Regions from separate parts of the Homo sapiens genome. Here region 2 is linked to region 1. Evidence: fine-mapped expression QTL. A gene starts in region 1. The other region holds a variant in brackets. All regions are shown on one strand. Distances are from middle to middle.

Region 1 (5,232 bases):
AAGGGGATTTATTACTTGTAACGAAGTAATGAGACCACCAGGGATACTTCCCAAAATAATGTCTCCCTGAGATGGGGGCTGGGTCAGGTTTTCATAAGCATTGGGTATTAAGGGTATATCCTGATGGCTTTGGATCTTACAATGAGGTGATGCTGAGAGGCATGATCTGACTGGATCCTGCCATCCAGTGTCCACTTCTTAATTCAGCCCTGGTCCTAATTCAAAACACTTACATTCTCCCTCTGATTGCATGCTTGGTTCATCTGAGGATGCTCAGGTAACATGATCTGAGGGTCCCCGGCAACTGAAAGACAATGCACAACTTTGTTATATAAAAGTTAAACCAGATAGGTCTGGTGCTGCTACCCTGTAACCAGTTACCATACATGGAATGGCTTAAAATAATACCAATTTATTATTATCTTACAGTCCTGGAAGGTTGGAAATCTTCAAAGGGCTTCACCACACTAAAATCAAGATGTTGCCAGAGGAGCTATCCCTCTGGCATTTCTAGGGAAGAATCTGTTTCTTTGTCTTTTCCAGGTTCTGGAGACAGCCTGTATTTCTTGGATCTTGGCTTCCTTCCATCTTCAAAGCCAACGATGACCAGTGTAGACTTTCTATGCTGCTTCAATCTGACATGGAGTCCCTGCCTTCCACATCTAAAGTACCCTTGCAATTACATTGGCCAAGATAACCCAGAATAATCTTAAATTAAACTCAGCTGAATAGCAATCTTAATGATCCTTTGTCAGGTAATATAAAATGGTACATGTTCTGGAGAACAGGACATGGACATCTTTAGGGGACCGTTACCTGCCAAACACAATGAGGGTAGTGTCTAAATGAGTTTTCAAATGGACAACAGTAACAACATCAACTTGGTGTTTAACCACATTGCTCTGTCTGTCCCATGCAGGAAGCAGGGAAAGGAGGGGCTCAAGAGTAGAGGACGGATGTGGGGGTGAAAGAAGAGGATTCAAATGAGCCAGGTTGCTTTGTCTCGGGGAGGGGGGTGCACGGTGGGATCCTCTCCTGAGAATGACTGCTGAAACAATAGGTAGTTGTGGCAGGTGGCGGAGATCCAAGCTGGTTTGATACCAGCCACATTTCCACACTGCCAAATATCATGGCAAGAGAAGACTTGACAGGGAACCGAAGAGAAGCCAGGACCATCCCTACCTGGCGGCATCAAAGAGAGAGGACTGTTATGACCTCCTGCGGGTCCTGACAGGGAAAGGTCCTCTTTTGGGGGCAACTGTGGGGACGGTGCAATGCCAACGTGAGCCACCATTTGAAATGAGAAACAGCGGTGTGGCAGAAAGAAATGAGTCTGGTGCAGACCAGTGGTTGGTTTCCTAGGGTTAGAGGTCTAGGTCTACCTTCTTTTAGAAGAGGGGCAGTGGTGAGTCCTTGATGGGAGCCCCCTGCCCCGGAGTTCACTTAAGAGCAGGTGTACCTTCCTCCCCTGCGTGGCTCCACGAAGCTGGGAAAGAAACGCACAGGACGACCACCCTAGAACCCCGGGCCTGTCTGGACTGAAATCGCCTCTCCCCTCCCACACTGCAGTGCTGACACCCCCTCTCCCATTAACATCCAGGAAGGAGGGTGAGCAGACTAGGGAGGGGGAGAGGGCAAACACCCAGCAGTCCTTATAGGGGGGCGGTTGGGGCGGGGGTGCAGACACACCAAGGGACGGTTTGGTATCCATCCGCTGCTCCCTCCAGCGCGGCTCTTCGCGACCTCGCGATCCTGTCCTCCGCCCGGCCCCGCAGCCGCCCGCCGGTGCCATATATTATAGCAGCGCCAGAAATGTGGTGGTCGTCGCCACGTTAGGGTCCGCGGGGTCCTCCTGAGGCAGCCTGGTGCCAACCCGCAGGCCCCGGCTGGGGCTCGTCCTGGCCCCGCCCACCTCTGGGTCGGAACTATGGTGGTTCTGTGAGGGGGGGCGTCCTGCACTTTCGCGCCGTATCCCTCCGCCCCCCTTCCCGACACCCTCGCGGAGAGCGGTTCTTGCCGCATCCTGCGCAGCCCCTGCCCAGTTTGGTGCAGAGGCGTGGGGGGCGGGACTCGTCTTTGCCATTCGGATCGCTGGGAAAGCGGTGGGAATCCAACTGAAGAGCAGCCAGAGGAGAGCTGAAGAGAGGAGGGGGAGGCCGATGACCTGGGCTCTGGGCCTCTGAAGGCAAGTAGGGGTGCGTGAGGTGGGGGGCCGTGGTGTGGGGGTGGTCCGCCAGGGTGGACCGGCTGGCAACCTGCCCCCCGGACCCTGACAGCCTGGCAACGAGGAGACGATCCGTTCGGAGCCGGGCGCTAGAGAGAGGTGCGCAGTGCCCGAGATCCCTGGCTATGGGGAGGCGGTGACTGGTGCGGGCCAGGCCGGACCAAGGGCTGAGGGGCTGGCTCCAGAGGCACCGTCAGATCGTCTGGAGGAGAACCGCGCTGACCGCTTCCCAGCCAGCTTTGCAGGCGCCCGCGCGCAGCCCTCGACGGTTTCGGTACCGAGAGACGGCTGTGGGGGAGGCTCCTGCGGGAGAAATGGCCAAACGGGAGCCGTGTTGGGGGGCGCCCGGGAGGCAGTTGGGGGGCGCCTGGGGGGGCCCTCGTGGGCCAGCGTCCCAGCTCTGTGCCTAGCCCGTGGGAGGTGGGTCGCGTTCGCTGCTCCGGGCCCTGATTCCGGAAAGGGGCCTGTGGGGCCCCGTGTCCTGGGTGCTGTCCCTTCCCACAGACTCCAGGTTGATGTCAAAGTCTGTCTGCGCGGTAGGTCTGGCGTATTCTGACAGGACACAGTGAGCATCTGTAGAGGAGAGGCTTGAAATAAAGGAGGAGCACGAATATTCCCTGGATTTCTGGAGGTGTGTGGGGATGTGGGGTGGGTGCCAAACACTGGAGAACCGAATCGGGGTGGGGGACTGCGACCAGAGCAGGTCAGGCATCCAGGAGCACCTCTTAATCTTCCCCTCTCTAATGGTGTTCCAGGCGCTTCCCCCACCTTCCATCCCCATCTGCCTCCCCCACCGTCCTAAACTGGGGGCTTGAAAGGGTGAGCTTTGGAGGTAGGGGTGATGAGGGAGACATACTGACAAGTACCAATTCACGACCTGTTTTCTAGAATATGTGGCGCCCTTCCCCCATTTTCTGCTGCGCAGAGCAAGGGGATGTGGCGCACCTAGTGGTGAATCCTCAGAATTGGAGAAGGGAGTAATGAGAAGAGTATGACGTCAAGAGAAGGAGTTGTTATCTCTAGAACCTTGAAGCAGGGCCTAAACAAAACGAGAATATTCCACCAGCAAAACCCCGAATGTTGAAAGACAGATATCAATAATATGGGGATTCTTATCCTTAGCGTTGGTCTCTCTACCAAGGGCTTTACTGCCACCCCTCATTTCCTGTCTTACTTTTTCATCTGTTTGTCCATAGGCCTGCTTTAAGGCTGGCCAGTTCTGCAAGAAAGGCAAGGAGGAGGAGACTGGCTCACACCTCTGGAGGTTGGTGAGAAGGGGGAGGGGGCAATTCAGGGGACAGTTGGAGAAAGAGAGCATGGCAGGTGGCTTTGAGACCAGTGGGTGCAGACCCACTTCTACTCTGCTGGATTTGCACAGTGCCAGCATCCTTTTTATTTCTTGCAGGGGACATGAGATAGGTGTAGGTTGTGTTGTGACTCAGAAAGACCTGAGAGCAGGGACCAGGACACAGGAAACCATAGATACATTGAACCCTTGAATGGGAAGACAGATATTTGTCACAGGAGCCAGAGTGCTTGCCTATCTACCATTCTCCATTCTCTCCTGTATGTTTACTTGTCTGTAGGACCCCCTTCTGTCAGCTGTGGGGCTTGACACTACTTGAACAAGAAAAGGAGGGGGAAACTGCACCACATAAGTGAAGGTTGGTATGAGAGTGGGTATACTTTTGGGCGGGGTAGTGGAGACCAGCATGGGTCCGGGAGTGCTTAGGGTCCAATCTGGGGACTTCTTGGCCCCTCCCATTGCCGACACACTTTCCCACCATTGTTGGACCTGTTTAATAGGAGGCAGCCGGTCCAGAGAGACTTTCTCAAAGCCCAGCTGTCCCACCTAGCATTCAACATCAGTCTCACTGCATATGTCTCTGCATGGGATGACATAATTGGAAGAGACTCAAAGCCCCATTTCATTCTCTCTCCCTAGATCCACCTCCAGTGGCTGCTCTGCTGGTGGTGGGGTTGCTGCTGACAACCACCCTCAACGGGTCTGCACCCATCCAGGAAATCTCTGTCTTCCTCAAGCTTGGTTGTGCCTGTTCTACACTCTATCTGTATTATTGAATTACTGACTGAGACTGTGTTTGGGAAGGAGGCTGAGTGACTACTGGACTGGATATTGACTCTAACTCTTGTTTCCAAGCTTATATCCTCAATCACCTAAAGATCAGAGTGTGAAGAAACAAACCTGTGACAGATCTGTGGTTGAGGTTTAGACTGGGGGAGGAGTATAGTACTGGACTTTCTTTGTAACTTGTACCATGACTGGGGCAGAGATTGAGTCTGGTGCCCAGGTCAAGCCTGAAAAGAAGCCTGGGGAAGAGGTTGTAGGTGGGGCTGAGATAGAGAATGATGTCCCTCTGGTGGTCAGACCCAAGGTTAGGACCCAGGCCCAGATAATGCCTGGGGCAAGGCCCAAGAATAAGTCCAAGGTTATGCCTGGAGCAAGCACCAAAGTTGAGACAAGTGCAGTGGGTGGGGCACGCCCTAAGAGTAAGGCCAAGGCAATACCTGTTTCACGATTTAAGGAAGAAGCCCAGATGTGGGCTCAGCCCAGGTTTGGTGCTGAAAGATTGTCTAAGACAGAGAGAAACTCCCAGACCAATATCATAGCCTCTCCACTTGTCAGTACTGATTCTGTCTTGGTTGCTAAAACAAAGTACCTGTCTGAGGATAGAGAACTGGTTAATACAGACACTGAGAGCTTTCCTAGAAGGAAGGCCCATTACCAAGCAGGATTCCAGCCTTCTTTTAGGTCAAAGGAGGAGACCAATATGGGGTCCTGGTGCTGTCCTAGGCCTACATCCAAACAAGAAGCCTCTCCTAATTCTGATTTCAAATGGGTAGACAAATCTGTGAGTTCCTTGTTCTGGAGTGGAGATGAGGTCACTGCAAAATTTCATCCTGGGAATAGGGTAAAAGACAGTAACAGATCCATGCACATGGCCAATCAAGAGGCTAATACCATGTCTAGGTCCCAAACTAACCAG
Region 2 (5,232 bases), 220 kb after region 1:
ATTGGTAGCTTGATGGGGATGGCATTGAATGTATAAATTACCTTGGGCAGTATGGCCATTTTCACGATATTGATTCTTCCTATCCATGAGCATGGAATGTTCTTCCACTTGTTTGTATCCTCTTTTATTTCATTGAGCAGTGGTTTGTAGTTCTCCTTGAAGAGGTCCTTCACATCCCTTGTAAGTTGGATTCCTAGGTATTTTATTCTCTTTGAAGCAATTGTGAATGGGAGTTCACTCATGATTTGGCTCTCCGTTTGTCTGTTGTTGGTGTATAAGAATGCTTGTGATTTTTGTACATTGATTTTGTATCCTGAGACTTTGCTGAAGTTGCTTATCAGCTTAAGGAGATTTTGGGCTGAGACAGTGGGGTTTTCTAGATATACAATCATGTCATCTGCAAACAGGGACAATTTGACTTCCTCTTTTCCTAATTGAATACCCTTTATTTCCTTCTCCTGCCTATTGCCCTGGCCAGAACTTCCAACACTATGTTGAATAGGAGTGGTGAGAGAGGGCATCCCTGTCTTGTGCCAGTTTTCAAAGGGAATGCTTCCAGTTTTTGCCCATTCAGTATGATATTGGCTGTGGGTCTGTCATAGATAGCTCTTATTATTTTGAGATATGTCCCATCAATACCTAATTTATTGAGAGTTTTTAGCATGAAGGGTTGTTGAATTTTGTCAAAGGCCTTTTCTGCATCTATTGAGATAATCATGTGGCTTTTGTCTTTGGTTCTGTTTATATGCTGGATTACGTTTATTGATTTGCGTATATTGAACCAGCCTTGCATCCCAGGGATGAAGCCCACTTGATCATGGTGGATAAGCTTTTTGATGTGCTGCTGGATTTGGTTTGCCAGTATTTTATTGAGGATTTTTGCATCAATGTTCATCAAGGATATTGGTCTAAAATTCCCTTTTTTGGTTGTGTCTCTGCCAGGTTTTGGTATCAGGATGATGCTGGCCTCATAAAATGAGTTAGGGAGGATTCCCTCTTTTTCTATTGGTTGGAATAGTTTCAGAAGGAATGGTACCAGCTCCTCCTTGTACCTCTGGTAGAATTCGGCTGTGAATCCATCTGGTCCTGGACTTTTTTTGGTTGGTAAGCTATTGGTTATTGCCTCAATTTCAGAGCCTGTTATTGGTCTATTCACAGATTCAACTTCTTCCTGGTTTAGTCTTGGGAGGGTGTATGTGTCGAGGAATTTATCCATCTCTTCTAGATTTTCTAGTTTATTTGCATAGAGGTGTTTGTAGTATTCTCTGATGGTAATTTGTATTTCTGTGGGATCGGTGGTGATATCCCCTTTATCATTTTTTATTGTGTCTATTTGATTCTTCTCTCTTTTCTTCTTTATTAGTCTTGCTTGTGGTCTATCGATTTTGTTGATCTTTTCAAAAAACCAGCTCCTGCATTCATTAATTTTTTGAAGGGTTTTTTGTGTCTCTATTTCCTTCAGTTCTGCTCTGATTTTAGTTATTTCTTGCCTTCTGCTAGCTTTTGAATGTGTTTGCTCTTGCTTTTCTAGTTCTTTTAATTGTGACATTAGGTTGTCAATTTTGGATCTTTCCTGCTTTCTCTTGTGGGCATTTAGTGCTTTAAATTTCCCTCTACACACTGCTTTGAATGTGTCCCAGAGATTCTGGTATGTTGTGTCTTTGTTCTCGTTGGTTTCAAAGAACATCTTTATTTCTGCCTTCATTTTGTTATGTACCCAAGTAGTCATTCAGGAGCAGGTTGTTCAGTTTCCATGTAGTTGAGTGGTTTTGAGTGAGTTTCTTATTTCTGAATTCTAGTTTGATTGCACTGTGGTCTGAGAGACAGTTTGTTATAATTTCTGATCTTTTACATTTGCTGAGGAGTGCTTTACTTCCAACTATGTGGTCAATTTTGGAATAGGTGTGGTGTGGTGCTGAAAAAAATGTATATTCTGTTGATTTGGGGTGGAGAGTTCTATAGATGTCTATTAGGTCCACTTGGTGCAGAGCTGAGTTCAATTCCTGGGTATCCTTGTTGACTTTCTGTCTCGATCTGTCTAATGTTGACAGTAGGCTGTTAAAGTCTCCCATTATTATTGTGTGGGAGTCTAAGTCTCTTTGTAGGTCACTAAGGACTTGCTTTATGAATCTGGGTCCTCCTGTATTGGGTGCATATATATTTAGGATAGTTAATTCTTCTTGTTGAATTGATCCCTTTACCATTATGTAATGACCTTCTTTGTCTCTTTTGATCTTTGTTGGTTTACAGTCTGTTTTATCAGAGACTAGGATTGCAACCCCTGACTTTTTTTGTTTTCCATTTGCTTGGTAGATCTTCCTCCATCCCTTTATTTTGAGCCTATGCGTGCCTCTGCACTTGAGATGGGTTTCCTGAATACAGCACACTGATGGGTCTTGACTCTTTATCCAATTTGCCCGTCTGTGTCTTTTAATTGGAGCATTTAGCCCATTTACATTTAAAGTTAATATTGTTATGTGTGTATTTGGTCCTGTCATTATGATGTTAGCTGGTTATTTTGCTCGTTAGTTGATGCAGTTTCTTCCTAGCCTCGATGGTCTTTACATTTTGGCATGTTTTTACATTTGCTGGTACTGGTTGTTCCTTTCCATGTTTAGTGCTTCCTTCAGGAGCTCTTGTAGGGCAGGCCTGGTGCTGACAAAATCTCTCAGCATTTGCTTGTCTGTAAAGTATTTTATTTCTCTTTAACTTATGAAGCTTAGTTTGGCTGAATATGAAATTCTGGGTTGAAAATTCTTTTCTTTAAGAATGTTGAATATTGGTCCCCACTGTCTTCTGGCTTGTAGAGTTTCTGCCGAGAGATCCGCTTTTAGTCTGATGGGCTTCCCTTTGTGGGTAACTTGACCTTTCTCTCTGGCTGCCCTTAACATTTTTTCCTTCATTTCAACTTTGGTGAATCTGATGATTATGTGTCTTGGAGTTGCTCTTCTCGAGGAGTATCTTTGTGGTGTTCTCTGTATTTCCTGAATCTGAATGTTGGCCTGCCTTGCTAGATTGGGGAAGTTCTCCTGGATAATATCCTGCAGAGTGTTTTCCAACTTGGTTCCATTCTCCCCGTCAGTTTCAGGTACACCAATCAGACGTAGATTTGGTGTTTTCACATAGTCCCATATTTCTTGGTGGCTTTGTTCATTTCTTTTTATTCTTTTTTCTCTAAACTTCCCTTCTCGCTTCATTTCATTCATTTC[G/A]TCTTCCATCACTGATACCGTTTCTTCCAGTTGATCACATCAGCTCCTGAGGCTTCTGCATTCTTCACGTAGTTCTCGAGCCTTGGCTTTCAGCTCCATCAGCTCCTTTAAGGACTTCTCTGCATTGGTTATTCTAGTTATCCATTCGTCTAATTTTTTTTCAGTTTTTAACTTCTTTGCCATTCGTTTTGAATTTCCTCCCGTAACTCAGAATAGTGTGATCGTCTGAAGCCTTCTCTCAGCTCTTCAAAGTCATTTTCCATCCAGCTTTGTTCTGTTGCTGGTGAGGAGCTGTGTTCCTTTGGAGGAGGAGAGGCACTGTGCTTTTTAGAGTTTCCAGTTTTTCTACTCTGTTTTTTCCCCATCTTTGTGGTTTTATGTACTTTTGGTCTTTGATGATGGTGACGTACAGAAGGGTTTTTGGTGTGGATGTCCTTTCTGTTTGTTAGTTTTCCTTCTAACAGACAGGACCCTCAGCTGCAGGTCTGTTGGAGTTTGCTAGAGGTCCACTCCAGACCCTGGTTGCCTGGGTATCAGCAGTGGTGGCTGTAGAACAGCGGATCTTGGTGAACCCGAAATGCTGCTGCCTGATCGTTCCTCTGGAAGTTTTGTCTCAAAGGAGTACCCGGCCGTGTGAGGTGTCAGTCTGCCCCTACTTGGGGGTGCCTCCCAGTTAGGCTGCTCGGGGGTCAAGGACCCACTTGAGGAGGCAATCTGCCCATTCTCAGATCTCCAGCTGCATGCTGGGAGAACCACCACTACTCTCTTCAAAGCTGTCAGACAGGGACATTTAAGTCTGCAGAGGTTACTGCTGTCTTTTTGTTTGTCTGTGCCCTGCCCCCGGAGGTGGAGCCTACAGAGGCAGGCAGGCCTCCTTGATCTGTGGTGGGCTCCACCCAGTTCGAGCTTCCTGGCTACTTTGTTTACCTAATCAAGCCTGGGCAATGGCAGGCGCCCCTCCCCCAGCCTCGCTGCCGCCTTGCAGTTTGATCTCAGACTGCTGTGCTAGCAATCAGCGAGACTCCGTGGGCGTAGGACCCTCCGAGCCAGGTGCGTGATATAATCTCCTGGTGTGCCGTTTTTTAAGCCTGTTGGAAAAGTGCAGTATTAGGGTGGGAGTGACCCGATTTTCCAGGTGCCATCTGTCACCCCTTTCTTTGACTAGGAAAGGGAACTCCCCGACCCCTTGCGCTTCCTGAGTGAGGCAATGCCTCGCCCTGCTTCAGCTCACGCACACTGCACTGCACCCACTGTCCTGCACCCACTGTCTGGCACTCCCTGATGAGGTGAACCCAGTACCTCAGATGGAAATGCAGAAATCACCCATCTTCTGCGTCGCTCAGGCTGGGAGCTGTAGACCGGAGCTGTTCCTATTCAGCCATCTTGGCTTCCGATTCCACCATTTCTATTCAACTGAATCATGGACCCCATGAATGGAGTTTGGGGTAAGGGAATGAAATCACCATACACCCCACTTCTTCCTGTTTCCCGGGTTTTCCTGTCCCCTTGTATTACCGCCAGTCTGCATGAGAGATGTGTGTTTCCTTTGCAGTCCAAAGGGGCTTGATGAAAGCCTCATACTGTCTGCTGTTCGGGACACTGGAGCAAGAGAGACCAGAGATCTCTCTGCATATTGGTGCCAGACCCAAACCAGTAACTGTGAGATGTTCTGGGCTCAGGGGTAAGTAACTTCCCCTGCTAGCCTCTCTTGGAGAGTGCATATTTCTGTTATGTGGGAGCTTCATTGCTATGTGGTAGAGTAATGGTGAGGCACACAGAAGCAGGTAGAGATGGAGCGCCTGGTGGGTGAACCAACACCCAGGGCACAGGCTCCAGGACTTGTGCTGCCTGATCCACCTTTCTCATGGTCTAGATCTTCCCATCGTTCTATCCTCTCTCAGGGTACCTGGGATACCTGTGTACATCCCATACTATCACAAAGAGCAGGAGACAAATGAGGTGGGGAAGGGAGCAAAGACAGAGAGAGGTAGAGGTGATCCCTGGAGGGCCTGCTGTTTTCTAT

What was found. PIP is the estimated chance that this variant, and not a neighbour inherited with it, causes the effect.
Region 2: its variant is fine-mapped to the expression of GPRASP1 in whole blood (TOPMed, PIP 0.96).

What each region holds. Positions count from the first base shown.
Region 1 is chrX:102,649,411-102,654,642 of GRCh38, forward strand. GPRASP1 (G protein-coupled receptor associated sorting protein 1) reads left to right here and starts at 2,073. Exons shown (of 6, transcript NM_001184727.2): 1 at 2,073-2,185; 2 at 2,277-2,323; 3 at 2,765-2,855; 4 at 3,421-3,488; 5 at 3,811-3,888; 6 at 4,170-5,232. The coding sequence starts at 4,504. The region is part of intron 4 of ARMCX5-GPRASP2 (ARMCX5-GPRASP2 readthrough); the gene reads left to right.
Region 2 is chrX:102,872,722-102,877,953 of GRCh38, forward strand. The region is part of intron 13 of ARMCX5-GPRASP2 (ARMCX5-GPRASP2 readthrough); the gene reads left to right. All of the region lies in intron 4 of LINC00630 (long intergenic non-protein coding RNA 630), which reads left to right. Among named protein-coding and RNA genes, the nearest start is that of RAB40AL, 62 kb to the right of the region's middle. The variant G/A (reference allele first, on the strand shown) is at 3,210.